Homo sapiens: one gene and its partners. The protein of the gene in region 7 purifies or fractionates together with the protein of the main gene of each other region. This does not show direct contact. Each region holds a gene or a part of one and is shown on either strand. Other genes may lie near its edges. The genes, in order: EFL1, MON2, NUDT5, NAA15, TAF4, KDM4D and ROCK1.

The links.
Region 1: the proteins of ROCK1 (region 7) and EFL1 fractionate together in Homo sapiens (co-fractionation; one large-scale study listed by BioGRID). This does not show direct contact.
Region 2: the proteins of ROCK1 (region 7) and MON2 fractionate together in Homo sapiens (co-fractionation; one large-scale study listed by BioGRID). This does not show direct contact.
Region 3: the proteins of ROCK1 (region 7) and NUDT5 fractionate together in Homo sapiens (co-fractionation; one large-scale study listed by BioGRID). This does not show direct contact.
Region 4: the proteins of ROCK1 (region 7) and NAA15 fractionate together in Homo sapiens (co-fractionation; one large-scale study listed by BioGRID). This does not show direct contact.
Region 5: the proteins of ROCK1 (region 7) and TAF4 purify together in Homo sapiens (affinity purification with mass spectrometry, with the first as the bait; one large-scale study listed by BioGRID). This does not show direct contact.
Region 6: the proteins of ROCK1 (region 7) and KDM4D purify together in Homo sapiens (affinity purification with mass spectrometry; one large-scale study listed by BioGRID and IntAct). This does not show direct contact.

Annotation. Positions count from the first base shown.
Region 1 is NC_000015.10:82,150,940-82,155,342, forward strand, and holds part of EFL1 (elongation factor-like GTPase 1), read right to left. Parts: intron 1,485-4,403; coding exon 526-1,484; exon of another isoform or gene 512-525; intron 1-511. UniProt on the Homo sapiens protein: GTPase involved in the biogenesis of the 60S ribosomal subunit and translational activation of ribosomes.
Region 2 is NC_000012.12:62,595,215-62,598,692, reverse strand, and holds part of MON2 (protein MON2 homolog), read right to left. Parts: 3' UTR 1-3,478. UniProt on the Homo sapiens protein: Plays a role in regulating membrane trafficking of cargo proteins. Together with ATP9A and DOP1B, regulates SNX3 retromer-mediated endosomal sorting of WLS away from lysosomal degradation.
Region 3 is NC_000010.11:12,185,892-12,190,294, forward strand, and holds part of NUDT5 (ADP-sugar pyrophosphatase), read right to left. Parts: intron 442-4,403; 5' UTR 401-441; coding exon 338-400; intron 1-337. UniProt on the Homo sapiens protein: Enzyme that can either act as an ADP-sugar pyrophosphatase in absence of diphosphate or catalyze the synthesis of ATP in presence of diphosphate.
Region 4 is NC_000004.12:139,303,858-139,308,260, reverse strand, and holds part of NAA15 (N-alpha-acetyltransferase 15, NatA auxiliary subunit), read right to left. Parts: intron 1-4,403. UniProt on the Homo sapiens protein: Auxillary subunit of N-terminal acetyltransferase complexes which display alpha (N-terminal) acetyltransferase (NAT) activity. The NAT activity may be important for vascular, hematopoietic and neuronal growth and development.
Region 5 is NC_000020.11:61,999,212-62,003,614, forward strand, and holds part of TAF4 (transcription initiation factor TFIID subunit 4), read right to left. Parts: intron 4,064-4,403; coding exon 3,949-4,063; intron 3,418-3,948; exon of another isoform or gene 2,603-3,417; coding exon of another isoform or gene 1,936-2,602; intron 1,709-1,935; coding exon of another isoform or gene 1,536-1,708; exon of another isoform or gene 1,517-1,535; intron 1,511-1,516; coding exon 1,341-1,510; intron 1,044-1,340; coding exon 913-1,043; intron 1-912. Other genes in the region: uncharacterized protein LOC105372704, read right to left, coding at 1,536-1,708, 1,936-2,602. UniProt on the Homo sapiens protein: The TFIID basal transcription factor complex plays a major role in the initiation of RNA polymerase II (Pol II)-dependent transcription.
Region 6 is NC_000011.10:94,990,354-94,994,756, forward strand, and holds part of KDM4D (lysine-specific demethylase 4D), read left to right. Parts: intron 1-4,403. UniProt on the Homo sapiens protein: Histone demethylase that specifically demethylates 'Lys-9' of histone H3, thereby playing a central role in histone code. Does not demethylate histone H3 'Lys-4', H3 'Lys-27', H3 'Lys-36' nor H4 'Lys-20'.
Region 7 is NC_000018.10:21,104,626-21,109,028, forward strand, and holds part of ROCK1 (rho-associated protein kinase 1), read right to left. Parts: intron 1-4,403. UniProt on the Homo sapiens protein: Protein kinase which is a key regulator of the actin cytoskeleton and cell polarity.

The DNA of each region.
Region 1 (4,403 bases), on a different chromosome or scaffold from region 7:
TTCTATTTGTTGCAAAAGAAAAGATCTTTAGTAGTCATGTTTTTCCCCTCTCAAGATTTTAATACTTAAGATATCTGGCTTTCAAAGATCTTAGTTTGTTAGTAAATCAGAAGATGGTACAGCTTCTGCAAAACATACTAAACGAGTTTAAGATTTTTGGGTCTGCCAGGTGCAGTGGCTCACGCCTGTAATCCCAGAACTTTGGGAGGCCAAAGTGGGTGGATCACTTGAACTCAGGAGTTCGAGACCAACCTGGGCAACGTTGCGAAACTCAGTCTCTACAAAAAACACAAAAAAACTTAGCTGCACATGGTGGTGTGTGCCTGTAGTCACAACTACTTGAGAGGCTGAGGTGAGAGGATTGCTTGAGCCTGGTAGGCAGAGGTTGCAGTGAGCCGAGATTGTGCCACTGCACTCCAGCTGGGGCGACAGAATGAGACCCTGTCTCAAAAACAAGATTTTGAGTCTAGGAGACTTCACTGTTATTCAGGGCATTTCTCACTATCTTTACCTTTTCTTCCTTACCGAGAACATCACCAGTGGCCATGATGTCACATGTGTACATAGCTGCCATCAGGCGCTGAGGTTTCACTTGCAGTGCATAGCGACATGCTTCTTTCATGGTGGCAATTAGCTGTCCTGAGAAAGGTCCATAGCAGTCAGTGAGTGGAGATTCTCCTTTCTGTGATGTCCTCTTCTCAAAGGCCTCAGAGCAGCCATCTTGTAGCTCTTGGTTTTCATTTCCACCAGAACAGGTTTCATTTTCCTCCTGTCCCTCTTTTGCCAGATCACTTGCTCCTTGTTCCTCAAATTTACTTAGGTCCCATTTTTCCAGAACAAAACAGACACCCATGAGAGGCTCCTCACACATGGGGCCAGAGAGGGTTGCTAGTTGGAAGCCACTCACAATGCTATTGCCCAAATCTCGGTATCTACTGGCTTCTTTTGAAGCTTTGTCAGCTGGACCTGTCCATACTGAGTTCTGAAAATCTTCACTTTTATTGACTAGTATGTTGGGCCCACATTTTCTTGGGCCAAATGACCAGATTTGGTCAACAATGTTCCTCCATCTTCTCCCTGTTAGGTGTTGCTCCAGTTTTCCTTTGAATTCCCAAATTTTCTCTTGGGTCTTCTGATGAATCATGTGAGTATTTTCACCCTCATTCAAAGAGGATGTCAACTGCTCCATAGAACGAATCAAATCACTATTTTCTTCCAGAATCTGGGTGACTTCTTCTGGAAGGGGCATGGCTCGAACACTGAGCGTGGCAAGTTTATTGGGAGTTGTTATGGTGATTAGCCCGTCAGAGTCAACTTGGATTCCTTCAGGGATTTTGCTTTGATCTTCTTTCATTTGGTGTATGACTGCAACTTTTTGCTGTTTGCCTATTTCTTCATTGACCATGTCAACTTTTGGGGGTTTTGTGATTGTTTCTCTGAATGGAATAATAGGTTCAGATACACTGATATGAATCTTTGCAAACCTACAGACAAATTCAAGAGAAATAACAGAAGGTTAAAATCAAAATAGCATCAAAGCTCCTGTGTAGAAATTACTACACAGTGGAGATTCTGTAAAAACATAGGAACATAAAAATTATCTTACTATGAAAGATCTGCAATTTACATTATATAACATTCAAAAACTGCTTTCTTTCTGATTGAAAAGACTACTTCTAATGGGAATATACCTCCAGGGAAATCCTTGCATGTACTGGAATTTCACTTTTTTTTTTTTCATTTTCAAGATATATAAACCACCCATTTAGATAAGAATGTTTTGAGCAGAAAATAAATGTTTTAATATATGAAATATGAATGCTTTAAAACAGTATTTGCCCATCTAAGAGTGTGGAGAAGAAAAGCTCAATGATTAAAACTCTAAATAGACATAGAATCACAGAACCTCAGGATAGCTAGTCAAATCTTCACAATGTATTTGGCTTTGATAATGAGGCTTATAGCAAGGCTAGCATGATCCATGAGTTTGTCTAGAGCAGCACTTTCCAAAAGAACTTTCTGCAATGGTGGAAATGTTCTATATGTTTATTGTGATTGCTGAGCCCTTGAAATGTGGCTAGTACAGCTGAATAAATTTTTAATTTTATTTAAATTTAAATAGACACATATAGCTACTAAGCATTTGAAATGCGGCTAGTATGACTGAGGAACTAAATTTTTAATTGTATTTGATTTTAAACAGCTGCATGTGGGTAGAAGCTACTCTTCTGGACATCATAGGTCTTGAGCCCCAGTCTGCCACCAAGTTCAGAAAGCCCCTTTTCCCACATAATATCAAATTTGATATTGTTGTATATTGTATATTTACAATCTTTTTGTATATTCACAGGATATACAACAAGATGGACCCGACATTGTATGTTTTTAAAACTACTTTGATATTCAAACCTGACAAAGACAGTATATATACACAAAACTGCAGTTCAATCTTACCTAAGAATTCAGATATAAAATCTAAGATAAAATAACAAAAACTATGGATATGCAGGTGTGTGCATTAAAAAAAAACTTATTATGTATGAGGCACTGTGTTAAGTGTTTTACATGTAGTATTTCTTTAGTAGGCACTAGTACTATCTAATTTTGTAGAAGAGAAAACCAGATAAGAAAGATTAAGTAATTTCTCCAAATAGTCTGTAAGTGAAGAAGCTAGGATTCAAATTTAGGTCTGACTTCAGAATTCACACTCTCAGTCATTATGCTATACTGAAAAATGAAGTTACTCAGTACATTAAAGGAATAATTTACTACAACACTACGAAGTTTGTATTATAGGTTATATGAAAATTAATTTGTATTAGATCTGTTAATACCACATTAAAAATATCAAATAATCTATGTAGCCACTTTTAAATATGCTAAATTGGCATTCAATAAGATTCAATACCTATTCTTGATTTTAAGAAAAAAGCCACTTAAAAATCTTAGGAATAGGAAAATATTTCTAAAATTATCATTACATAGAGAAAAATATGCTCATATACTTAGAACACTCAAGAAAACCAACGGCAAAGCTTCTGAAACTACGAGAGAGAACACATCTACAACACTGCCCTCTTATTCCTGTAACATAGTCAAAAGAGCTATGAGCCACTTTAGTCCTTCTAATTCCTGAGGCTCCCAAGAAGTCTCCTGTAGTAATCATTTATATGATTAATTAAAACCACTCCAAGCTGTGGAAGGAAGTGTGTGATGGTTGCCACACTCACAAAGCACCTCAGGACCAAAGGTTCTTTAAGTCCTAGCAATGCAGAGCCTGTGATGACACTAAAAAAAGTGCGGTAGGCTCAGGCTACATCATGGCAATTTCCTGTGGCTTCCTGCTCTGATTATTACTACCTTGAGATCTGGATGCTAAGAATTCTGACAGTTTCTCTGGCCTGGAGACAATATAGTCTCCTTGTCTCCCATTCCTGGACATAATCCATTCCTGAAGATGTGTGTAGAAGTTGAAAAAGATTATATACTACCAAAAGGTAGGCTCTGTCCTATGAGAACTAAACAAATTCTATAACATTATACACATTCTTAATGTAAGCATAATTGTGAAATGTAATAGTCATATAGAACAGTGCACAAAACAAAAATCTACTGATCTATGATAACTTACCTCAAAGTGAACACCCATGTAAACTACATGGTATAGTCAAGAAACAGAACAGTCTTAGCCCTCAGAGGGCCCCAATGCCATTAAGTATGAAGGTAACTGCTATCCTGATTTTTATTGTAATAGCCTCCATTTTTTTTAAATCACCTAACCATGTAACCCCTTATACTCCACAGTTCAGTTTGGACTGCACTTCTTTTTGTTCTTTTTTAAAAACAGGGTCTTGCTCTGTCACCCAGCCTGAAGTGCAGTGGTGTGATTACAGTTCACTGCAGCCTCGAGCTCCTGGGCTCAAGCAACCCTCTTGCCTCAGCTTCCTGAGTATCTGGTATTACAGGCATGCACCACCTGCCCGATTAATTTATTTTTATTTTTTTAGAGATGAGGTCTTGCTATGTTACCCAACCTGGTGCACTATGTTTTGAACTTCATATAAATACAAACAAACACTTTTTGGGGGAAGTGAAGTGGCTTCTTCTGTTCAACATTATATTGTGAGATTCACCTATGTTTTATATAGCTGTAGTTTTGTTCACTGAGATCATTCTATAGAATTCCATTGTATGAATACGCCATTATTTATTTATTTATTTATCCATTTAAATGTTTGAGTTGTTTCCAACTTTTGGCTACTAAAATTTTGTTGCCATGAGGCCAGGTATGGTGGCTCACGTCTGTAATCCCAGCACTTTGGGAGGCCGAGGAGGTTGGATCACTTGAGGTCAAGAGTTTGAGAACAGCCTGGCCAAGATGGTGAAACACCATCTCTACTAAA
Region 2 (3,478 bases), on a different chromosome or scaffold from region 7:
ACAGTGGTATTACTTTCAAGAATTGTGTTGGGAACTAAAAAATAATTTCACAAAATTAGATAAATATATCCAGTCTGACATAAACACCATATGGTAGCTGCCTTAAGAGACAGGAGTTGTATGTTACGTGTTAAATTATGACACAGAGGTAGTAGTAAGAGATGGAAAGCAAATGAAATTTGCACAGTTGGGTCTGAAGCCTAATATTTTCTTTTTCTAGATAAAAATAAAATTGCAATATAGGTATGGAGTATTTTTCTCCATCTAGTAAACATCATAGAAGGAAGCAGTTGTTAATATATTGCAATGATTTTCCAAATAACGGCATGGTTTAGCAGATCTTCCCTGGCTGCACTGTTTATTGAATTTTAGTTTAAAATAAAACTTAGTGTAACTACATTCGCAGCAACTGAAAATGGTCTGAAAATTTAATTTTTTCATACTTGAGGGGATAGAATCAATACCATAGTACAATTAGGAAGGTTTCAATTGACCTCTGGGTGACCTCTGGGTGAACCAATCACACAGACACCAAATACACTCCAGAAAGACTCAGATATGAGAACTATAAGATTCCGGGTCTTCCATCAAAGACTGCTTTGCAACAGAAAAATGAAAATAGTTGAAATACATGGGCAATATGCTGCCTCAAATTATTCTTGTAAGTAGGCAGTGTCAATATAAATCAATATTAAGATGGGATAAATCTAAAAGTTTAAACGTCTGCCTCAAAAAAACAAATATCTCCCCCACCCCCCAAAATCATAAAAAACCAAAACCCTAATTAAAAATATTTTTTTGAACTAGAGATAGGATCTTGCTATGTTGTCTAGGCTAGTCTCAAACTCCTGGCCTCAAGTGATACTCCCACCTTGGCTTCCCAAAGTGCTGGGATTACAGGTGTGGGCCACCACGCCAGCCAAAACCCTCATTTAAACAGGTTTTAAATACTTTACTTTGAGAAAAGATATATAATCTCTCTACCCACATAACAGAAAAGACATGATTATTCCAAATTTAGGTGCTGAATCCATCATATTTATAGCAATCCCATTTTGTGAGCATCTTGGCTGCTGAATCCCGTGTATTCATAAAGACAGTAGGAGTTATAGTCACAATTTTTTTTTATTTTTAGTTTTTTATGGCACTTCCAGTTTTTGGAACATATTACTTTAACTTGTTCAGCTATTTCAAAATGGCAGGGGAACTTTACCTTGGCAAAAACGCAACAGTGGCCAAAGTGCAAAGTATTTCTACTTTCCACTTTGTAGTGGTAGAACCATGAGCAGTGGTTCTACCACTAACAGCTCCACTTCTTATGAACAAGGAATAGGCACAATTAGAGAAAGAGCTGAAAGAGAAGAGGCAGAGAATGAAAGAGGAATTAAAAGAGAAAAATCAGGGGAAAGTATAAGAAAGATGGTAACGTAAACATAAAATTTAACAAGGATAAAAACATAAAAGAGAGAAGGGGAGGGAAGAAAGTGATGTCCAAGAAAAAGGAAGAAAAATGGTCAAAGATCTCTCTTACAATATAGTAATAAATTTATCAAACAACTTGAATTACCCTGTCATTAAAATCAACTCCACACTCAAATTATGCATTTTTTCCTCTAAAGAATTAGTAACTCATTGATCATCATCTCTGTTTAGAAATAAGGAAACCGCTTTGAAAAGTCAACATGCCTAGAGTTAAATAAGAAGTAGCATCTCTGTCCATCATTGCCTCAGAATTAGTCGAGATGACCAAGAATATTCATATAGAACTTGCCACATGTTCTTTTAAATAGCCAACACTGTTAGAGCATTAGAAAGTATTGGATTTGTAAGACATTTAACTTCCTCTGAAATGGTCTGTATATAAATCAAGATACAAAGATATCATCTCTCTTTCTGAATCTATAAACACTTTTCATTCAAATGAAAGCACTATTCTACTTTCCAGAGATACAAAAACTTTAATTCAAGTGATCATGAAGTATTAAAGACTTTTCCCACTTTATATAAATTGGTAAAATACTATGTGGCATGAACTCCCATTCTTCTCATGAATGACAATTTTTTTAAAATAAAAATTCCCTCTAATAATGTAGATAAATACAACCCAGGAACACTAAGCATAGTAAAATGTGATGCTTTATACAAGATTAGCTTATCTGCCAAAATGCCAAACCTAAGTGGAAATCTAAGGAACATACCTGGCTGCTGGCAATGCTTTCAGAGATCATTTTTGTCTACATCTGTGGTAGTTTTCTCTGAAAAACTGTAATCCACAATATTCTGAGCCTGTACACTAACCCATTCCAAGGGTGGCACAGTTAGGGACTCCTGTAAGTGTTCTGCCTTGGCTAGACAGACTTCACCTACAGCAGTCTCTTGAAAACTTGGTTGCCCATCTGAATTATTCTGTATTTGGGGAGAAAATATTAGTCATTTTAAAATAACTACACTGCCCTTCATTGACACAAATGTAATAATGACCACCTCATTAATAAAGAATATACTTTTGAGTTGTTTTCTAACACTGTTCCATAACTTATGCTAATTCATCCTTAACTGTTTCTCAACTGATCCTTTGGCCCAATGGTTACCTGGGACTAGTGGTACCAAATTGTGACAATAAAACAAAATGCTCTTTAAAATTATACTGAGAAAGGACAAATAATCTAGTTGTTACTGGCCTGCTGTAGAAATAATTTAATTGAATATTATTCTCCAGAATAAAATATCTACACTAAATTGTTCATCTCTTTCTTCTGATGATACATACAAATTTAAGGAATATAGCAAGAGTTGAATCGATAACCATATAATGGAAAAAACAAGAAACAAGAAAGATGTTAGCTGTTAAGTGAATAAAATTAAAAATGAAAGCAAGTGAAAAGTGGTTCTAAGCTAGACTTTTTTATGCCTTTTGTTTGTTTTGGAACCTAAAAGGCTCCTAATAAATGTTACAAATGTATACAATAAAATTAACAAAACCTTAACACTAGTTATAAAGAAATACTAAAGACATTACAAAATGATGTATTTTTTTCTCCCTTGGCAGTGGTGGTAGCATAGGAAACTAAGAAGTAATCTATGCAAGTTAACAATTAGTTTATTTCCTTTATAATGGACAAAATGGCCAGAAAAAGACTTTATTAATCATACAATTGGTGGCATATGTCTGTTGTCCAGCAATATGAATAAAACAGGCACTGGCAGTGACAGCAAGTGACGATGTGAGGCTTAAAACTCATGGTATTGGCTGGGCGCAGTGGCTCAGGCCTGTAATGTCAGCACTTTGGGAGGCCAAGGCGGGCAGATCACCTGAGGTCAGGAGTTCAAGACTAGAATGGCCAAAATGGTGAAACCCCATCTCTACTAAAAATATTAAAAAAATTAGCCTGGCATGGTGGCATGTCTGTAATCCCAGCTACTTGGAAGTCTGAAGCAGGAAACTGCTTGAACCCGGGAAGCAGAGGTTGCAGTGAGC
Region 3 (4,403 bases), on a different chromosome or scaffold from region 7:
CCATCAACAGCCAAGTTGTGACAACTACATATGAAATATCTGAGTCCGCAAATGCATATATTCTTTCTTCTTCTATCTAGGGAAATACAGGAAGGATTAAGAATTTTTCTGTTAAGAGCCCAAATCTCCTAGAGTCTCAATTTCACTAATACACAGAGAGACACACTACTCCTCCCACACAAGAGCAAAATGTGCCCGAGCCCAAAAAAGGGAGTAGGAAAAATCTTTACAACTGTCTTCAAGAATGAAAGACCACCATTGTAACAACAGTCTATATATTTCTGCTAAACTCAGATTTATGTGGGGGAGGGAAGGGAAAGTGAAAAACAAGTTATACCTCCTCTGAAATGATATACTGTTTGCCATTCTGAGAAGATTCCGTTGGTTCTTGGCTCTCCATTTTCAAACGAGTCTTTACAGCCCTCAGGTGAGAAGTTCACCCTGCAAGATAATGAGATTTGTTCAGGCTAAAATTATTTTTCTGAATTAAACATTCGTCCACAGGACACTAGTCAAAGTACTTAAACGGCAAAAAATTCATCTACCATCAACGCTGCCTGTCTCAGTATGTGAGGGAACTGCCGCAGGTGGAAATGTGAACAGGGAGGCCCGGGGATTAGCCAGGAAGGAAGTGACAGCAGTCCTAGTCACCCTCAGCCACAACAGCCAAGCTCCTGCCATGCCTGTTCTAGGCACTTAGAGGCCACCCTTCTTCATCAGATTTTTCTTTTTTTTTTTTTCTTTTTTGTTTTTTTTGAGAGAGTCTCACTCTGTTGCCCAGGGTGGAGTGCAATGGCGCGATCTCAGCTCACTGCAACCTCCGCCTCCTGGGTTCAAGTGATCCTCGTGCCTCAGCCTCCCGAGTAGCTGGGATTACAGGCATACATCACCAGGCCTGGTAATTTTTATATTTTTAGTAGAGACAGGGTTTCACCACGTTGGCCATGCTGCTCTCAACCTCCTGACATCAAGTGATCTGCCCTCCTTGGCCTCCCAAAGTGCTGGGATTACAGGCGTGAGCTACCGCGCCCAGCCTGATTTTTCTGACTCCGAATCTTAAACTCTTTCCAAGGGAAGACAGAAGAAAGATTTACCACTCTCCATGCCCACCTCTCAGTCTTTTATCCATCTGTTACACCTAAACTTACTTATTTTTTGAGATGTAAGATCTCACTCTGTTGCACAGGTTGGAGTGCAGTGGCGAAATCATGGCTCACTGTAGCCTCTACCTCCCAAGCTCACGTGCTCCTCGCATCTCAGCCTCCTGAGTAGCTGGGATTACAGGTGCATGCTACCACAGCCAACTAATGTTTTAAACTTTTGGTAGAGGTGGGGTCTCACTATGTTTCACAGGCTGGTCTCAGACTCCCGGGCTCAAGCGATCCTCCTCCCGCCTCGGTGTCCCAAAGTGCTGGGATTACAGGCATGAGCCACTGGACCCACCTCCCCACTTACTTTTAAGTTTCAGCATGTATCAAAGTCATAGTTGCAGAGAAAGGATCGAGTAGTACTACAAGTTCTGTTATGAAAAGAGCAGGCCCTTATCCCATTTATTGTATATTATTATTTCCTCTTTCTTTATTCCTTCATTTTCGGACCTTGCCTGTCCGAAGGTCAAAGTCTTTTTTTCTTACCCACACACATGGTTGTTAATTCAGCTGTATATAGAATTATAGACCCAAAGCCAGTTGTCTATGAAACTGTAAGGCATTGCTTAGTTGTCTTACTTCTGGTGCTGCTGTTGAGAAGTCCAAAGCTATTCTTATTCTTGATCTTTTTGCCATGTGACCTGTCTTCCTCCTCTGGAAGCTTGTAGTTAGTCACTTTCATGTCGATGTTATTGTACTGGGAAGTCAAGTGGGTCCTTTCAATCTGGAAACTTCTTACTATGCTTCTTTACAGGGAATTTTTTTCTTGAACGACTTCACTGATGATTTCCTCCCCTGTGTTTTCTCTGTTGTTTCTTTTAAGAACTGTTACTTGGACCAGGCACAGTGGCTCACACCTGGAATCCTAGCCCTTTGGGGGACCAAGAGTCTGAGACCAGCCTGGGTAACATGGCAAAACCCTGTCTCCACAAAAATAAAAAATAAAAAAATTAGCCGGGTGTGGTGGTGGGCACCTGTAGTCCCAGCTACTCAGGAAGCTGAGGCAGGAGGGTCATTTGGACCCAGGAGTTGGGGGTTGCAGAGAGCCGAGATCACGCCACTGCACTCTTACGTTCCACGGTTCTCTAACCTACCCCACCTAACTTCGGCTTCAAAGAAAATACAGCCCACCCAGCATCAACTCTCTTCCCAACTGTCCTAAAGGAAAAAGTGAGTCTGCTCTTTGTTTCTTCTGGGACCCAAAGTGATCATACTACCCATCTGATCTTCAATTTGTCCCCAAGACAGCAAGCTTCCCTATTCTAAAATACAATCAATAACAAAACCAACTGTATGAATATTCATAAAGTGCGTTTACAAATCAAATATCTGATTGACTATCATAGGTAACCCTTGTGGCCAACCTGTGAAAGGTGAGATGATGTTTTAGGAAAGTGGCGGTGAGGCCGGGTGCGGTGGCTCACGCCTCACGCCTACAATCCCAGCACTTTGGGAGGCCAGGGCGGGTGGATCACGAGGTCAAGAGATGGAGACCATCCTGGCCAACATGGTGAAACCCTGTCTCTACTAAAAATACAAAAATTAGCTGGACGTGGTGGGGTGCGCCTGTAGCCCCAACTACAGGGAAGGCTGAGGGAGGAGAATGGCTTGAACCCAGGAGATGGAGGTTGCAGTGAGCTGAGATCGTGCCACTGCACTGCAGCCTGGCGACAGAGCAAGACTCCATCTAAAAAAAAAAAAAAAAAAAAAAAAGTGGTGGTGAGAGGGACAAAGACCCTCACTCCCCCGGACCTCATTTTCCAGTGAGGAGAAAGGAAAAACAGTGAGGAAGAACACAAAATTTATGTCAAGTGACTCAGCGTTTCATGAAGAAAGATTAAAAAGGATGAGAAGTGTGGGGAAGATGGGAAGAGTAATCTACACGGAGTGATCAGGCAAGGCCTGTTTAATTTGGTGACTTCTGAATGGAGACCTGAAAGCAATAAGGAAGTAAACCACGTAGAAGTTTAAATATTTAGAGACAGACATTAGCATATTGAAACCTGCAGCCCTACTAAGAAAACAGGCACTTATTCCTTTGAAAGTACCATAGATGATAATTTATTAGGTAAACTTTTTTTTTTGAGATGGAGTTTCGCTCTTGTTGCCCGGCTGGAGTGCAAAGGCATGATCTCGGCTCACTGCAACCTCTGCCTCACGGATTCAAGCGATTCTCCTGCCTCAGCCTCCCGAGTACCTGGGATTACAGGCTCCTACCACTGCACCCGGCTAATTTTTACATTTTTAGTAGAGATGGGGTTTTGCCATGTTGGGCAGGCTGGCCTCGAACTCCTGACCTCAGGTGATCCACCAGCCTCAGCCTCCCAAAGTGCTGGGATTACAGGCGTGAACCACCGTGCCTGGCCGCTAAAAGAGAGTATTTCTTTGGAATGCAATCAGCCTCAAAGGGAAACAGTATCGTGCAGCAATCCACTGATTCCGTGAATGACAAAAATGAGCTATTTCAAGAGCATATTCTTAACTATGAGATTCCCAAACATTTCAGAAGGACTGTAAAAGTACCTCAGAAATTTTTAGAAACAGAAAAGGAATGTTGTTTTTAGCACCATTTCAAAAGCAGAAGCCAAATAGTGCCATTCGGGGGCCAGTCACTGCCAGCAACACGCTGCAGAAAGAACGAGAAATGAGCTTTAAATTCCGTGCTTTGTAAGCCAGCGTCTCCGCCACTGCAACGGAGTTTGCCTTCACTGACTCAACGCTATTTCAAGATTTAAAAGCAAACTTTGATATAAATTTTATCCACTTCATTAGTTAGAATTTAAGGTAATTTGCATATTGCCAATATGTGTATGGTATGAAAAAGATACATGTACACGATGTTGAGTGTTCTACAATTTTTTTTTTTTTTTTTGAGACAGAGTCTTGCCTTGTCGCCCAGGCTGGAGTGCAGTGGCGCGATCTCCGCTCACTGCAAGCTCCGCCTCCTGGGTTCATGCCATTCTCCTGCCTCAGCCTCCCAAGTAGCTGGGATTACAGGTACCTGCCACCATGCCTGATTAATTTTTTGTATTTTTAGGAGAGACGGGGTTTCACCGTGTTAGGATGGTCTCGATCTCCTGACCTCGTGATCCACCCGCCTCGGCCTGCCAAAGTGCTGGAATTACAGGCGTGAGTCACCGCGCCAGCGAGTGTTCTACAATTTCATTTATGATTTTCCTTAGTCTTTAAAGTCACAAGCTGTTTTAATTCTCATAAATCGTTTTAACTCAGTTCAGTTTGAACACTGAAGGTCTA
Region 4 (4,403 bases), on a different chromosome or scaffold from region 7:
GGCCGGGCGCGGTGGTTCATGCCTGTAATCCTAGCACTTAGGGAGGCCAAGGCGGGCAGATCAGGAGGTCAGGAGATCGAGACCATCCTGGCTAACACGGTGAAACCCCGTCTCTACTAAAAATACAAAAAATTAGCTGGGTGTGGTGGCAGGTGCCTGTAGTCTCAGCTACTCAGGAGGCTGAGGCAGGAGAATGGCGTGAACCCGGGAGGCAGAGCATGCAATGAGCCGAGATTGCACCACTACACTCCAGCCTGGGCAACAGTGAGACTCCGTCTCAAAAAAATAATAATAATAATAATAATTTACTTATTATACAATGTATACAGCCACCTAATAAGTATTACTACTCCTTTGCCTAACAATTCCCTCACCCTCCTCCTACACCCCTCCCCTAAATAGTTAAACACTAGGCAGGTGTGATGTTAAGTGCCCTGAAAAGAAAAAAAGTTTTATTCCAGACTGTAACTAACACTAGCTGTTGACCTTAATCTCAGTCTGTTTGCTTAATAAAAATGTCCCCACCTTGAAAAGTTTTGAGAATTAAGAAAGGACTCTAAATAAAGCATGCTGTGTCCAAAACGGTAACCATTCACCACATGTGACTATTTGAATTTAAATTAAGATTAATTAAAAATTCATTTCCTCAGTTGCACTAGCCATATTTCAAGTGTGCAATAATTACATGTGGCCAGGCCAGGCACAGTAGCTCACATCTGTAATCCCAGCACTTTGGGAAGCCAAGGCAGGAGGACTGCTTGATCCCAGGAGTTCAAGACTAGCCTGGCCAACATGGCGAAACCCCGTCTCTACCAAAAATACAAAAATTAGCCAGGCGTGGTGGCACGCCTGTAGTCGCAGCTACTCGGGAGACTGAGCTAGGAGGATAGCTTGAGCCCGGGAGGTGGAGGCTGCAGTGAGCCGTGATCAAACCACTGCACTCCAGACTGTGTGATAGAGTTAGACCCTGTCTTAACAAAAACAACAAAAAACAAACCTACACATGGCCAATGGCTATCATATTAGAGCAGATAACAAATATTTCCATCATCACAGAAAATTCTACTGTGCAGTGCTATTCTAAAGCACCTAGAGCAGAGCCTGGCAAATGGTAGATTTCTCATTTTACCTGGCAAATAGTGACAAATCACAAACATAATCATCATGCTATTTTAACTTCTCTCACCACTTTTCTAGGAAAGAAAAATTCTGTCCTTTAACACTTACAACTAACAATTTAAATCATTCAGGCTAAAGTCCAAAACTACATTTATTGATGTACAATATTTTAACTATTCCCAACTTAGATTTTTCTTATAACTGACATTAACATTTGAAGAGCAAAAAAGAGAGAAGGAAGCAGCAGCAACAGCAACCAACCTACCAATACTTGATTGAAAGGCATTAGGATATGTCCATCTTTTCCAAGCAGGTTAAAATCTAAGGTGTGGATTTTGTTCTACTCTGGCAACCTCATTTTTCCTACCCTTAACCTAGATCCTAACAAAGTGGTATAAATATCTGGTAACCTCCTCAAACTTTTAGATAAACAAATAGCATCAACAGTAGGCAAAGGCCACAATTTTCTAATGACTTAATTTTCCAAATAAGTTAAAAGTTTGTAATTACAAACAAAACAAAACAAAACAAAACAAAAAAAAAACCAGACCAAAAAAAAAAAAACCAGCTTCTGGCAAACACAAGTCTTCCTTAAACTCTTACATAGGACCAGGTGCAGTGGCTCATGCCTGTAATCCCAGCACTTTGGGAGGCCGAGGCAGGCAGAACACTTGAGGTCACTAGTTCAAGACCAGCCTGGCCAACATGGTGAAACACCATCTCTACTAAAAATACAAAAAAAAAAATTAGCCGAGTGTGGTGGCAGGCGCCTGTAATCCCAGCTACTTGGGAGGCTGAGGCATGAACCCAGGAGGTGGAGGTTGCAGTGAGCCAAGATCACACCACTGCACTCCAGCCTGGGTGACAGAGCAAAACTGTCTCAAAAAACAAACAAAATAAAATAAACTCTTACATAGTATATGTCACATTAAATTCATCCCATCCTTTTTCTAGACAAATTATCAGCAAGAAACATTATGCAAGCATTTTGACTAACTTAGGACAATGCTTTAGTCAGAAAACAGAAGAGTAATATTGGAAAAAAGAGAAAAATATACAACAAAACTGAATTTTAGAGATCAACTAGACTAGATCAAGCCAGGCAAATCCACTGCAGAAACTCTAAAATTTTTGCAAACTTATGTGTAAAGCAGGTTTCCATTAAAAATTTAAGGAAAAAAATGTTTATTTTGAAATACAAACTAACTGTATTTCCTACTTAAGTTTATCATAACAAGTACAGTACAACTAACAAAGTAGCAGCTCAAAAGTTGAATGCTGCAGGAATGATTTAACAAGTTACCAAGCAGCCAGGAGCAGTGGCTCAGGCCTGTAATCCCAGCATTCTGGGAGGCCAAGGCGGGTGGATCACTTGAGGCTGGGAGTTTGAGACGAGCCTGAACAACATGGAGAAACCCCATCTCTACTAACAATACAAAATTAGCTAGGTGTGGTGGCACACGCCTGTAATCCCAGCTACTCAGGACGCTGAAGCAGAACTGCTTGAACCCGGGAGACAGAGGTTTCGGTGAGCCGAGATCATGCCATTGCCCTCCAGCCTGGGCAACAAAAGCGAAACTCCGTCTCAAAAAAAAAAAAAAACAACAAGTTACCAACCTAGCAACACTTGATTACATAGAGCACACACATCACATTATGTCCAACATTTCCTTTATCAGACCGGGCAAAAAAAAAAAAAATCTTAAAAGCACTAACTTACTATCAAATCTCAAGAAACAGAAGCAATTTCAAAAAATCAATACTATCCTTTTGGTCAGTAACACTTTCTTCATTCCTAATGTATGAGAACAATAAGGACATTTTAGCTCCTTTACTCTTCCTTCATTTAGTGACTTCCACATTTCTCTCACATATAACTTATCAATAGATCTTCAGCACTGTGATTTTGGCAATAAACTTACAGGTTTTTGCCCCACTAACACTACCACAAAAAAATTAAGATGTTTAATCAAAAATTGCTATTATATGGATGGTTAAACACACTGTGGTACATCCATATCATGGAATACTACTTGGCAATAAAAAGGAATAAACTATTAGCTGGATGTAGTAGCCCTGTAGTGATCCCCCCTACTCCGGAGGCTGAAGCGGGAGGACTGCTTGAGTCCAGTAGTTTGAGGTTACAGTGCCCTTTTGATAGAGCCTATAAATAGCCACTACACTCCAGCCTGGGCAACAGAGGAAGACTCTATCTCTAAACCCAAAAGAATGGCAAAATTATACAAATAGAGGACATGTACCGGTTGCTGGAGCCTGCAGCGAGAGGGGATGGGAGGGCGGTGGGAGAGATAATGGATGTGGTTCTAAAAGGGCAACAGAGGGGGGTACTTTGGACTGAAGGAACTTGTTCTGTAGCCTAATTGTAGTGGTGCAATCTATACATGGGATAACGCTGCATAGAAGTAAATACAGTCAGCTCTCATTATCCTTGGTGTCTGCATCCATAGGTAAAAACTATTTTTAAAAATACAATAAAAAATACAAATTTTTAAAATACAGTATAACTATATAACAGTAATATTGCATTAGGTATTATAAGTAATCTAGAGATATTTAAAGTATACATTCGCATAGGTTATATGCAAATACTACACCACTTTACATAAGGGACTCAAACACCTGCAAATTTTGGAATCTCGCGGGATCCTGAAATCAACCCCCGACAGATACCAAGGGATGACTGCACCCGCGTGCGCGAGCACTCACACGCGTGTACAAGTAAAGTGGGGAAATCTGAATAAGACTGGTGGATTGTATCAATGTTATAATAATGAACCATGGTTTTGCAAGGTATTAGTGTTGGGAAAACTGAGTAAAGTGCACTGTATTATTCCTTAAACTACGTGATTATTACAGTCTTCTCAAAATTAAAAGTTTGATTTATTTAAAAAGTGCTAACACTTGGCCGGGTGCGGTGGCTGACGCCTGTAATAGCAGCACTTCGGAAGGCCGAGGCGGGCGGATCACTAGGTCAGGAGATTGAGACCATCCTGGCTAACATGGTGAAACCCCGTCTCTACTAAAAAATACAAAAAATTAGCCAGGCGTGGTGGCGGGCACCTGTAGTCCCAGCTACTTGGGAGGCTAAGGCAGGAGAATGGCGTCAACCCAGGAGGCGGAGCTTGCAGTGAGCCGAGATCGCGCCACTGCATTCCAGCCTGGGCGACAGAGCGAGACTCCGTCTCAAACAAACAAACAAAAAAAAGTGCTAACACTTGAGAAAATCTCCATATGAACCAGATATTAGACAATATTAGAGAATG
Region 5 (4,403 bases), on a different chromosome or scaffold from region 7:
GTCCAGTCTGAATGCGGCGAGGACCCGATCCCTCCCACCCTGCAAATGCTGCGCCCGAGAGCTCTATCGATGCTCACGTCCACAGAACGAAGTCTCGTGTTGGCTGTCTCAGGGGCACACTTGTGGGAGAGTGTCCCTTTTATACACTTTGATGCTGTCAGATTTCTTAAAGTAACATTTACCTTTTTTGCTGCAACACAGAACTACTTTTACAGCAAGGGCTAAGTGTGTTTATTTCAGTGCTGCCCTGAAGGCACTGCCTCCCGGCTGTGGCAGCAGGCACCACCTCACCCAGTGTGCCCTTGGAAGAGTGTTCATATGTGACTGCTGGTGAGGAAGGCACGTTTTACTTGGAAGAGCTGCTTCATGAGAATAGGGCTGCGGCACCTCAGGGTCTGCCAGTTCAGCCCATGGCCCAGAGAGAGAGGCAGGTGCCTTCCAAAAGGTAAACCCGCCAGGCATAGAGGCTCATGCCTGTAATCCCAGCATTTAAGGAGGCCAAGTCAGGAGGATCACTTGAGGCAAGGAGTTTAGGACCAGCCTGGGCTACATCGCGAGTCCCTGTCCCTTTTATTAAAAATACAAAAATTAGTTGGGCACGGTGGTGTGCGCCTGTAATCCCAGCTACTTGGGAGGCGAAGGCACAAGAATCGCTTGAACCCACGAGGCGGAGGCTGCAGTGAGCCAAGACTGCGCCACTGAACTCCAGCCTGGGCAACAGAGTGAGACCCTACCTCAAAAAGAAATCTTTCCAAAATCTAGTCCTATAAGAAATCCAAAACACGTTCGTAAGGAACATGGAGGCACTTGGGACCCACCGCCCTCTGCCTCGGTGTGGGGAGGAGGCTCCCAGCCAGCAGAGAGTGGGGGCCAACAACATAAAGACGCTCTCCTCGGCAAACAGCCTGTTACCTTGTAAGAAAAGTTCTTCTGCTGAGCTGTTTCTGATATTTTCTCTACAAGATTCTGTAGCCTTTGTTGCGTGGCATGTGATACATAACTTACTACATCTGGATGTAATTCCGTTATACCATGTTTTTTACCTAAAGGTCAGGCAAGAAAAACAGTATTTTAAAATCATTAAGCACAGTTCTTTCTTTACGGCTAATCTCTGATCCAGCAGTTACTGCTTTTATACAACCCAAGGGGAGCCCAGAAAGGCTGGTGGGGTGGAAGGCAGTGGTACCCATATTTTACCCAAGAACCACCACCAGCAACCATGTGGAAATCACAAACTCAGACAAAACACATGACCAGGTGTCAGGTGTGCTCACCTGAAGCTCCCATGCCCCAGCAGCGCAGCTGTTTAATAAGAACTCAGTCATTAAACACCAACGTACCTATTTCTAATATTCTTCTCTGCAAAGGCGCTTGGAGGAGGAAGGTTTCATCTTTACAGGACCGCGTTAGCGTGCCCACCAATTCAGAGTTCGTGGCTAATATTCTTGCACTTTCTTCTGACAAGTTTACTCCAGCCATCGATGCAACATCATTAATGTCATCATCGTCCCTTGAGGAAAGAAGGGAAGATCACTTTAACTGTACAAGGAATTCATCGGGAGGTGGGCTGGGGTGGTAAGGGCAGGAAACCCCACGTGGAAGGCAGGGCCGTGAGGAGGCCAGGCCTCTGTCCTCCCCGCACCTGCACCTGCTGCATCTGCCACAGCAGAGAGGGTGCCTCGCTGCTTTCCTGGAAAGCTCGATTGTTCTGCGGAAGGAGAGCTGTGAGTTGGCGCCGGGTTAACATCTACACACAGATGCGCAGGGGACTCAAGTCCAGAGAAAGCAAAGCCGGGAGCAGCGCGGGGACTTGTGGGGGTCTGATCTATGCAAAGCTTTTTAAAGCCAGAGGCAGCATTAAATTCTTTTTAAAGGCTCAGAAGTTGGAAGAAGAGTACGCACAATTTTTTCCTGAATCACCTGAAAGTTGCTAACCTGACTTTCCTCCACCCGGAACATTCTGCACGTGTTTCCTACAGACAAGGGCATCCCCTCCAGAAGCAGGATGCCATTGAGACCGGGCCATGATGAATGGCCCCTCCCCAGGCCCTCCCCCGTAGGACCCGGTCCCAGCAGCGCCTCTCCCTGCAGGACAGTCTGCATCCCAATCCCAGCTGCCACGTCTTGTCCGGCTCCTCAAGCTGGAAGGTTCCTCAGCCTCTCCTGACTCCTGGGCTGCCCCTGACACCTGGAAGGCACAGGCCAGCTGTGTGCAGGACGTCCTCTTCCAGGCTGACTTCGGCCCCCTCGTGAGGAGATGTGAGCTAAGAGTCCTGCCGGGAATTCCACATGCACGCAGCCTCCACTTGCCGCCTCCAGCAGTGGGCTTTGAACGTGAGGCCGGGGGCCTGCCTGGCGTCTCCTGGGGTCGTTGTGTCTCGGGGAAGAGCTCTACAGCAGTTCTCATGCCCAGTCCTCCTATGGGCTCCAGGTGCTCACTCAGGGTCTTGGCATCCCTGGTGGTCACGGGCTGTGGCTGGGCTGCACAGCTTAGGGCTCCAGCTGAAGGACCCGGCCATGGGAGGGAGGCTGCTCTGCTGACATCCACGTCCACGTCATGCCCATGTCCACTGCTCTCTGACACAGGACGGTCTCCGCTCATCTTGTATTTCCTTATCCCAGTCCCGCAATCAGCCTTTTCTCTCAGGAGTCCTTGTCATTTTAGTGGAAAACGGTTTTTAGAAGACAACATCTGAACACTAGGTGTGCTCAGTGTTACTGGGGCGTTACTGTTCCCAGGACCCTGCGGTGAACAAAGCTAGAAACTTACGGCAAGACCCATGGTTATCCATGCCTGCCGACACACTGAAACCCAGGGGTTTGCGTCAGCATTCCAATCCTGAGCCAGCCCACAGGGGTCACTCTCCTTTATCCCTTCTGCCAGGCCGCTGACTCCTTGACAGCAAAATACCAAGGCTTCCTGCAGCCTTGATTAATTCTTTCACCCGTGTATGTCCCTAAGTGCCCTCCCTTCTCACTGAAGTATCAGCGTCACGCTGGGCCCAGGCATGCTGGCCACCTCTCCCTGCTTGGGCTGGGACTCTGGCTCAGGCCACAGCCACTCCCCAGGCCTGCTATGCCCTGCCTGATGCCTTTAGGGATGAAGTGTCTGGGAAAGGGAAAATTCACAGTAAGACTTCCTGAAATACACACAACTCCACCGCCCCTTGATCACAACAGAGATCACTCCAAGACTCTCCCACTGCTCAGGTCCCATAAGCACCTCCCTGACTGAGGTGATGCTCAGACCACCTGCTTTCCAGGAGGCCCAGGCAAAGCACAGCAGTTATTTTTCTAGAAACAGGGCCTCACTCTGTCACCGACGCTGGCGTACACTGCTAAAACCATAGCTCACTGTAACACTGAACTCCTGGGCAGAAGTGATCCTCCTGCCTCAGCCTCCCAAGTAGCTAGGCCCACAGGCACACACCACCAAGCCTGGCTAATTTTTTATTTTTTGTTGTTGTTGAGTAAGGTTTTACTATGTTGTGCAGGCTGGTCTCAAACTCCCGGGCTCAAGCGATTCTCCCACTTCAGCCTCCTGTAGTGCTGGCACTGTAAGCGTGAGCCACTACGCCTGGAGCAGTACAGCATTTCTGAGGGTTCTGAAGTTGAATACATGGAAAGTGAAGCATTCTATACTAGGAATGCAATGAACTCAAAATACGATGTTATACTAAAAAATGAATTTCCTATTAGTTCATATAAAAATAATCAGTTGATTCGCTTTCTGGCTATGTGTATGAAGCAAAACCTCTTTGAGCCAACTGTATGGGAAAACACACTTGTGTGAACGTGAGGTCAAAGTGAGCGTGAAGCAGGAGCCTTGGAGCCCCGGCCGCCAGGGCCACGTGGGAAAGACCCGTGGGCGGGAATGGAGCAGCACGGACTCTGGACTCTTCTCCGCTCTGGCCACGCTTCTCCAACGTACACAGGCCCATTCCTTACCGAAACGAACCTCCCCCAGGCTCCTTGAGTTTATTTTTCTGTGCAGCAGCTGCTTGTGCCGAGACAGCAGAAAGGGCTTTGGTTCCAGGTAACACGGCGGGTTTCACCACAGGGACTACAAAACAAACACACAGTGGAAACCACACAAGGCTTTTATTAGATCAACTATGTGCTTTGGTGCTTTACAGGCTCAAGGGCACAGCTACCACTCTCCTAATTAGCTACAAGAAAGTTTCCAAAAACTTCATATTAATAACTCTAAATTACAGTACAAAGTGTAAGCTGTACCTCTCGAGCATTTATTTTCCTGTATTTCATCAAGGTTTTTAAAGTGCAGGAATGATTACAGATAAAGAAGCTAACCATGGAAAATACATAAAATTAAAAATCATACTGACAGTGGTGATGGTTACACAACACAGTAAATGAAATCAGTGCCACTGAACTAGATACTT
Region 6 (4,403 bases), on a different chromosome or scaffold from region 7:
CTCAGATTGGTCTGGAAGGCAGAGTTTATAACTTAGAAAAGAGAAGGAAGAGATAAGTGAAGCAAGGGAAGAAAAGCATAGAGTCAAGGACAGTGATTAGGACCATTTGACTGGAACTACGTTTGTATAAGAAAATTGAGAGAGAAATTTGGGAAACAAGAAGCAATAAAGATGTGGTTTAAACACAATCATTTACTTTGTTCCCTTTCCAAACCTCACTAAAGTGACAGTAACAGGATTTTTGTTTTAAGAAATGAACTTACAAAGACAGAAAATGGTAAAGGAAAACAGGTAGTGGCCAGTTTTGGAAATTGGAAAGCAGATGGACAAGTGTAAACTGATTTATCAAACACTGGAAAGTTGAGTCCTAAATTGGCAATGAGGAAAGCCAAGAAGCAACACAATTGTCTCTACAGAACCCAAAAGGCTTAGGATGTCATGGCATTAGGTACCTCTGGGAGTGACAGTTAAAATGAGGCTAAGGAGAATTTGTTGAAATCTGTCTAACAAAACAGAGCCCTAGGTTCCCACCCTCCTCTAAGCAGCTGGATAAACTGCCCCTCTTACACCCTGGCAGAAGATTGAGCTTCATTTTTTCTAGAGTGAGGAAAAAGGTGGCCTCTGGACTGGGAATTTCCAGATACTTTTGAGAGTGTGGTTGTCATAGGGAAAATAAGTTGATAAAGTGAACTGTACAAGTAGGGTACTTTTAGAAATGTGTAGCCTCTTTTGCCATTTGGGAGGGAAGTCAGACCTGTACTCTCCAGGAGAAAGACTGAAGCATCTTTTGCATTGAATATGACCAGCTCTAGAAATATCAGTGTTAGGAGTTCACCTAGGAAACAGCCCAGTTAGAATATCATTCAGGGAAGCATAATCACTAAAACAATTCATGTACCCTGAGCTTCTAATCTGCCTTTTTTGTGCTGTACTTTTTTATATAAGGCAATTACTAAAGGCTACCAGACATGTGAGGAAAGCCTTAAATATGAAAGAGACCAAAGCAAAAAAAAGAAAGAAAGATAAAAAGGACAAAAGTCAATTTCAAAGAAACAGACCATGCAGGGAGAAAAACAAAACAGAATTTCAAAAACCATTGAGATTTTAGTATTTCTAGAGAGGTAAAAGAAGAAATGCTCCCATGAAGCAAGAATAAGACAATAAGAAAGAAAAGCAATGTACATACATGCAGGAACTCTCAGGTAACAGAAATGATCACTGGAAATTAAAAATTTGATTGGAGAAATGAAAAAGACAAAGAGAAAGGAAGTTTAGAGATAAAGATGAAGAAATTTTTTAGAAGATAAAATATAGTGATAAAGGAATAGAAAACTTGGGGGAGGGGAAAACAGGTGAACATTAGAGGTCTAATCCATGAAAGGTCCAATATCTAAATAAGAGGAGTTAATACACAGACGAAAAGGAGTAGAGGAAATCAAAGAAAGAACTAAAAAAAAAAAAATCCTAAAATTAAAGAACTTCATTTTTGAGATGGATAAAATGTAAGAATATGGGTTCAAAAAAAGCTTCTATAAACGTTGATAGAGAGACAAACAACCTAAAATAAACAACACACATAATGAACAGGTCATCTGTAAAGAACCAAGAATCATATTCATATCCTCTTCATACTCATGCTCACACCAATACCCACACAATAATTTCAAAAGTTAATAACCCCCCCTCTCCGAAATACAGAATTAAAGGTATAATTAAAATCAGAATTAAAGGTACAATTAGCATATACAAAGGAAAAAACTATAGGATAATATTTATCTCCATCTAGATGAAGAAGTATTATAACTTTCTAAACATGAAAAACATGAAAAATATTACAAAGGAAAATAAAATATTGTAAGTCAAAAACATTTTTGTTAAATAAATTTAAAGAAATACAAGTTAAATGACAAACTGGCAAAAAAAACTATTAACATATCTAACAAAAGGGTTTAATATGTAAAATATTCATGTAATTAATATGTAAAATGTTTATATAAGTAGGTAAGAAAACACCCTGGGACCCTATTAGAAAAAAACAGGCAAAGGATATGAACCAATACATAAGATGAAATCCAAAAGACTAATATTTATGAAAAAAATCAAAATCAACCTTAGTCGTTGTCCAAGAAATGTAAATTAAAACTTGATCTAACTTTTTAACTTACCAAAATTAGTAAAATATATATTTTTTCAAAGTAAATTTGATCAGTGTTCAGGATGTAAAATATATTTTTTCTTTAAAGTTTTGGCAACGTGTATTAAAGATCTTAAAATATTTAAATTCTATAATGTAATTTCATTTATAAGTATCTAATCTAAGAAATTTCATTCATTCAACCAATATTTTACGGGATGTACTGTTTTAGATACTGAAATACGGACTACATATTTAAGTAAAAGTGATTAGTAATAATCGTGCAAAAGTAAAAACAAAATAGCTGTCCAATAATACAGGATAAGTTTAATCACTTGTCTACACAGAGTAGAATTTTTTCAGTTATCAAATATATTATGCTTATAAATTATTTTAAATAAGTAGTAGATTTTCTAACTGAGAAAAAAATTTGATTAAACATAGCATTTAGATATTGACTGTCAGAAGAAACAAGGGCTGATGTCTGAGGCATTTTGTTAACAATCCCCCACTTGAAGTAATAGATTTGAAATACATATGCAGCAAGAAAGACAAACAGTTTGGGCAAGGGCTGCAGTGAAAGGGACTGTTAAACTTACTCAGCTTCACTTCTTAACTTGCCCAGTTTAACACCCCCCAACACACACACACAGCAAGAAGCTTAGGAGGCATTATTTCTAAAAGACCCGAAGAAAGACTTTCTAATTTCCAGAAATCCATTAATTTTAAGGGATCAAGTATTATTTTTTAATTATTCTGATAAGAAAATACTTTTCTTTGGTTGTCAGAACTGTCAAGTTTTCTTAGATGACGAATTCTGCCTTATTGTGATTACTGTGGGTAAGGGTAAAATGGAAGAGTATCAAGTGACAGTGTAATTATTCTCTACTGGTAGCTATGGTTCCAGTTGAAAGAAGCAAGTAGTCTCACAACAAAAGCAACCATTGAAGACTCATAGAGAAGTGACACATTTGGCTAGAACACTGAAGGATCTCTCCATCATTGTACCTGGCAAATTCTAAGCAGTTTTTTTTTTTTTTTTGGAGCGCAGTCACACTTACAAATTGTAGTATTTTCTTTTGATATGCAACATCTGAAGACTATATGTATAAGGAGACATTGCATCATTCTTCCTAGAATCCTTAGAAATGTAGAAAAGAAGTAACGCAGTTTATAAAACAGATACAAAGTGCTCAACCCAAAGCTTATTTTACTTGTATATTCAAAAAAATATATAGGTTTGTGTGATTTTCATAGTCAGCATTTTGTTACTTCTTGAGGGAAAGACCCTCAGCATGATATTTAAGTTTCTGATATTTAATTATCCTTCTAAATTGTCTCACTTTTCTCTTTTCTTTTCTTTAGAGCAAGTTTTCTAATAGAAAGAATGAAATATTTTATTTTATATTCCAAAAATATAAAGAATTTATAATAAAATCATTGTAGAATAATTTTTAAGATTAAAAAATTGGGATGAGATTGGGAGACTATCATATGATACAGGTAATCTTGTCACTTGTACATCCTCAGTGTCTCGCTTGAGTAGTGACAGCTTTAAGTAGGAGAGGAAGACAAGCTGGATTCTTGGGTTCTTCTATAAGGAAGATAAAGAGAACACACCCTGGGGTGTCTAGATGTCCTTGGGGCCTCATGGAAGACTATCATTGGATCCTCTGACAGGCACTGACCATATGTCTGGGAAAAGGGAGATGTAATAGTCAGTGGTGACTACGATAACACATTATTGCCCTTGATAGAAATAAAAGACATATAAAGGAGTAACTTAGTTTCAGGAGAAAGATCATCAATTTGTATTAAACCAGTTGACTTTCAGGGGCTCACTGGGCCATCTAAGTTGGAGAAGGAGAGCAGAAGCTTAGGAGAGAGTCAGTTATTGGAGAAAGTTATGACAATAAATAACATGTTTAAAGGGAAACAGCATGGTACTAACAGAAACCCTGAATATAAATAGGAAATTTTAAGAGAGAAAGAAAGTTAAGAGGGATAAAAATTGAACTTTGAGATGTCTGCATGTGTGTGGTAGAAGAGGAGGTAGAACCCAGAAGAAAGAAAAGAACCAGTGTTAAAAGAAGTATCAGTGCCCTGGAGGTTGTAGGAGTTTTAGGAGGAAGGGGGAGGTGTTCTGTGAACCAGTGATGTTCTGTGAACCAGATGTTCACAGAACCACTGGTTCTGTGAATCAGTGAAGTGTAACCCCTGGAGCAGAATTTGGGAGGCAGTTTGATGATTTATGGAGAACAATGTCAGT
Region 7 (4,403 bases):
TCTCAGCCGTTACTCTGAGCCACGTCTCTACACACCCACAGGGTGCCTGTAGTGCAAGAGGGCCTATTTACAGAACACACACTGAAAGTATAAAAGATACACACAGAAAGAGAACAAGATAACAACTCAATCTCCATAAATTAGTTCCCAATTGCCTTTTATATCCAACTAAACCCTTGGCACAAAGTATATACCATATTATAAATCACAACTAAACAAATAAACAGTCTCTAAAAGATCTTCCCCATTTATTGAATCTATTAATAAATGTCTCAATTTTCAGTTACAATTGGCTTAGACGTCAATAACGCACAGCTAGATTATGAATTTATGAGCGGCTTGAGGTGCCAGATAAATTACTCTGTACTTAGAGACGACAATAAATATCAACTTCTAGACTAAGCACACTGACTAGTATATAACAGAAATATTATAAATATGACAATATTACAAATGCTTACTAAATACCAAATGCTATGATAGTTGCTTTGACTATATTATTCAATTCTTACAACAATCTAGTACTTTTATCCCCTCTTATTTTTCTGAAGATGAAACAGCATTGAGAGGTTAAAATAACTCCCTAAAATATTTCAGCAAATACATGTCAGAGCCTAGATTTCAATCCAAGTTTAGGCCCTATACAAAGATTTGCTGAATGAATAAAAATGAATTAGGAGAGTAACTTGTTTTTTTAAAAGAAGTTCCTGCAACATACTAACATCCAAAAAAGTCTGGTCCAAACTAACCAGATATGCAATTGATACTAATAACACCTATTAACTCACAAACTAGGAACACTGGCAGAGATACAACTTTAAGGCTCAAAGATTTAATGACCTCAGGTCTTTTCATTCCAAGAGTAATATACCCCCAAAACAGATCAATTCAACTGGCAAGGCATACAGGGGATTAGACAGCAATAATCCAGATTCGAAAATGCTACCCAAAATCTGCTGTAATAACCCAATGTGTGGACTAACACTGTCAAAAAAGTTCACAACAAAAATTTCAGTTTAGCGACAGGGACAATAGTGGAATTAATGACAAAACAGATAAGTTTATGGGAGGAAGCTTGTTTTGGAATATGAGGGATTTGAGACTAACATGACATCCAAGTAGAAATGCTTACAAGGCAGTCAGATATTTAAGGTTTGAAACAAAAGACTAAAAATAAAGATTTGGGTATCATGTACATAGAGATAATAATAATTGAAGCTGTAAGAATGGATGAATTCTTCAAGAGAGTGAAGACAAAGATAAGTATGATAGGCCAAAGATTGAGGAAAAGAAAAAAAGAAGAATGAAAAGATGGGAAAGCACTAGGTCAAGAGAGCCCAGGAAGATAATTTAAAGGAAGAAAAACTCAAAGACTAACACCAGAAATTTCATTTACATTTATCTTCCACATTCTGAAAAACTCCCTAATAAGAAATAGTAGTGACAAACAGCACAGTGTTAGAACTCAACAGGCACTATTTGACTAATACTGGTTCCCTTCTGTCTCCTCCGCTCACCCGTTGCTACACCTCCACCAGCCAGAAGAGAAGTGGAAAGGTCATGTTCTTAACAGGCATCATGAAGCGATGTGCCAATAAATATGCTACAAGCAAGATATTTTCATGAAAAGTATGTCAAACTTCAAAACAAATGTATCTATAACCCTCCCAACCATTTTTGTTTTTCCTTTTTTTTGAGACAAGTTCTCACTGTGTCGTCCAGGCTGGAGTGCAGTGGCACAATCTCGGCTCACTGCAACCTCCCCGTCCTAGGCTCAAGCAATTCTCTGGCCTCAGCCCTCCAGGAGCGAGCCACTGCACCCGGCCTTGTTTTTCCTATTTAATTTACAAATCATAAGCATTTTTTCCTCTGCAAAGATTAAATAGACTTAACTAAACTCCATCCCTTATTCTGTTTTCAAAGGTACTCAAAATCACTGAGAAATTATTACAGGCCCTAGACAAAATAATTAGAAGATAAGGAAGTCCGGAAAAGAGAAATAGCTCCCGATAATCCTTATAAACTGTAACATGGACAGTAAGAAAGACAACCATTAGGACACTGGAAAGAATCTGACCTACAGAAAACCAAAGTTGACTAATTTGAATGCTCTAGGAAACAAGTGAATGGTTATCATAATGTATCTTAGTATTTGCAGACTATTTTAGCATTTATACATGATATGAAGATTGAACTTACTTAGTTCTTGAAAAAAATTACAGGTGTTCGAGAAAAGATTGGATAGCCACTTATCAGAGTTCTTCCAGCTACATTATTCTAAACTACTGCAGGTTGAGTATCCCTTGTTTAAAATGCTTGGAACTAGAAGTGTTTCAGACTGCAGACTTTTTCAGATTTTAAAATATTTGCATATACATAAGATACCCTGGGGATGGGGACCAAGTCTAAATAAGAAATTCATTTACGTCTCATACATACCTTATACACAACAACCTGAAGGTTATTTTTTGCAATATTTTAATAATTTTGTGCATGAAACAAAGTTCTGACTGCATTTTGACTGCAACCCATCTCACAAGGTCAGGTGGATTTTCCACTTATGGCGTCATGTCAGCACTCAAAAAGTTTCAGATTTTGAGCACTTCAAATTTCAGATTACGGATGCTATTCATCATTAGTGTCTCAACAAAAAAGCTGTTTAGTAGGTAAGGTAGTTTAAAAGGACATACACCAGCAAATTTCTGAAACCAAAAGATTTGGAAGTTTCCATTTCTAAGCATGAATCTAGTAAAGGAGGTAGAGAAGAAACAATTTGAAAACCTTATTTTTGGGATTACAAAAACAACTCTAGAACTAAAGGACTGCACGTGGCACATAATACACACTAATAAGTAAGTATCAGTTACACAAATCAACAAAAGTCAAAATAACAGAAAAAGGCAACCAATGTAAAAGGAGTTTTGTTCCTATAATACATGAGAGGTCCAAAGTCCAGATAGGGAAGAACAAGAACAGACTCACTGAAAAAGCTGAAGTCACCTGATAGGTCACCCTGAATGACACAATGAATGAATGAACGAACGAATGCTCAATGTTAAACATAAAACATCATGCGAAGAAAATTCATGCTAGATACTACAAACCCAGAAAAAGGATTTTTTGTCTCTAAAGGAAATTCAGTCTTGGGCCAGGCACGGTGGCTCACGCCTGTAATCCCAGTACTTCGGGAGGCCAAGGCAGGCGGATTCCTTGGGGTAAGGAGTACAAGACCAGCCTGGCCAACATGGTGAAACCCCATCTCTACTAAAACTACAAAAATTAGCCAGGCGTGGTAGTGCACGCGTGTAATCCCAACTACTCGTGGGGGCTGAGGCAGGAGAATCACTCGAACCCAGGAGTCGGAGGTTGCAGTGAGCCAAGATCGCGCCACTGCACTCCAGCCTGGGCAACAGAGTGAGATTCCATCTCAGAAAAAAAAAAAGGAAAATTCAGTCTTTACCAAGTTCAGATTGACGGGGTAATAAAATTTCAGTAACAGCTATCAATAAACAGCTGTGGAACTAAACAGAAAAAGAGGACAAGATTATAAGATTTGAAGGGGAAAAAACAACCAAATCTGTCTGTTGACTATTCTCTTTAACAAAATGTTGTTTTAGAAGTGTTGGGCTCCATGATACCTGGCTGTCCTAACTCTGGAGGCCTTGATGGCTTACCTCCTCCACTCTTCCTCTTTGTTCAACCTTCATCTTTCACCCTCATTTTTCCCTCCATTGTTTCTCCCTTTACCATTATATCAACTTGCACCTTTGTGCAAATGACTTCTAAATCATTATCTGTAATTATGAGCTCAGTTCTGTATCTCCAACAGTCTACAGGTCATTTTCTCATGATTGCTCCACTATCCCCTCAAACACAACGAATCTAAAATTGAATTTATCTGTAGGCCTATTCTTCACAAGCAATTTCCAAACCTGACTTTGCTATTTTTACCATTCTCCCTATAATCCAGGCTCAACCTCTTTAGAGTCATCTGACTATTGCCTCTCTCTTTGGTTCCCCATCTTTTCCCTGCCAATAAAGTTCCATTAATTCTTCTTTTCTCATTCTCATGCCCCAATTTTGGGCTTCAATCATTTCTGGACTATTACAATAATAACAATTTTAAAAAACTGTCCAATCTCACTGTCTCTCCAATCTTTTCCCATGCTAACCCATCTTCCACACACCAGATTCATCTTCTTCATTCATCCTAGCACGGTCTTATTTATAAATATTTAATAGCCACAACAGTGTAAAGGCAATCCAAAATCCTTAGCCTACCAATCAAATCCTCCACAATCTAACGCTAATATTTCCTTCCAACCTTATCTTCCTTGTTTCCCCAAACATGTCATAGCCAGTCATGTCTCCACCCTCTATTCACGTTATCCTCCACTCCTCTT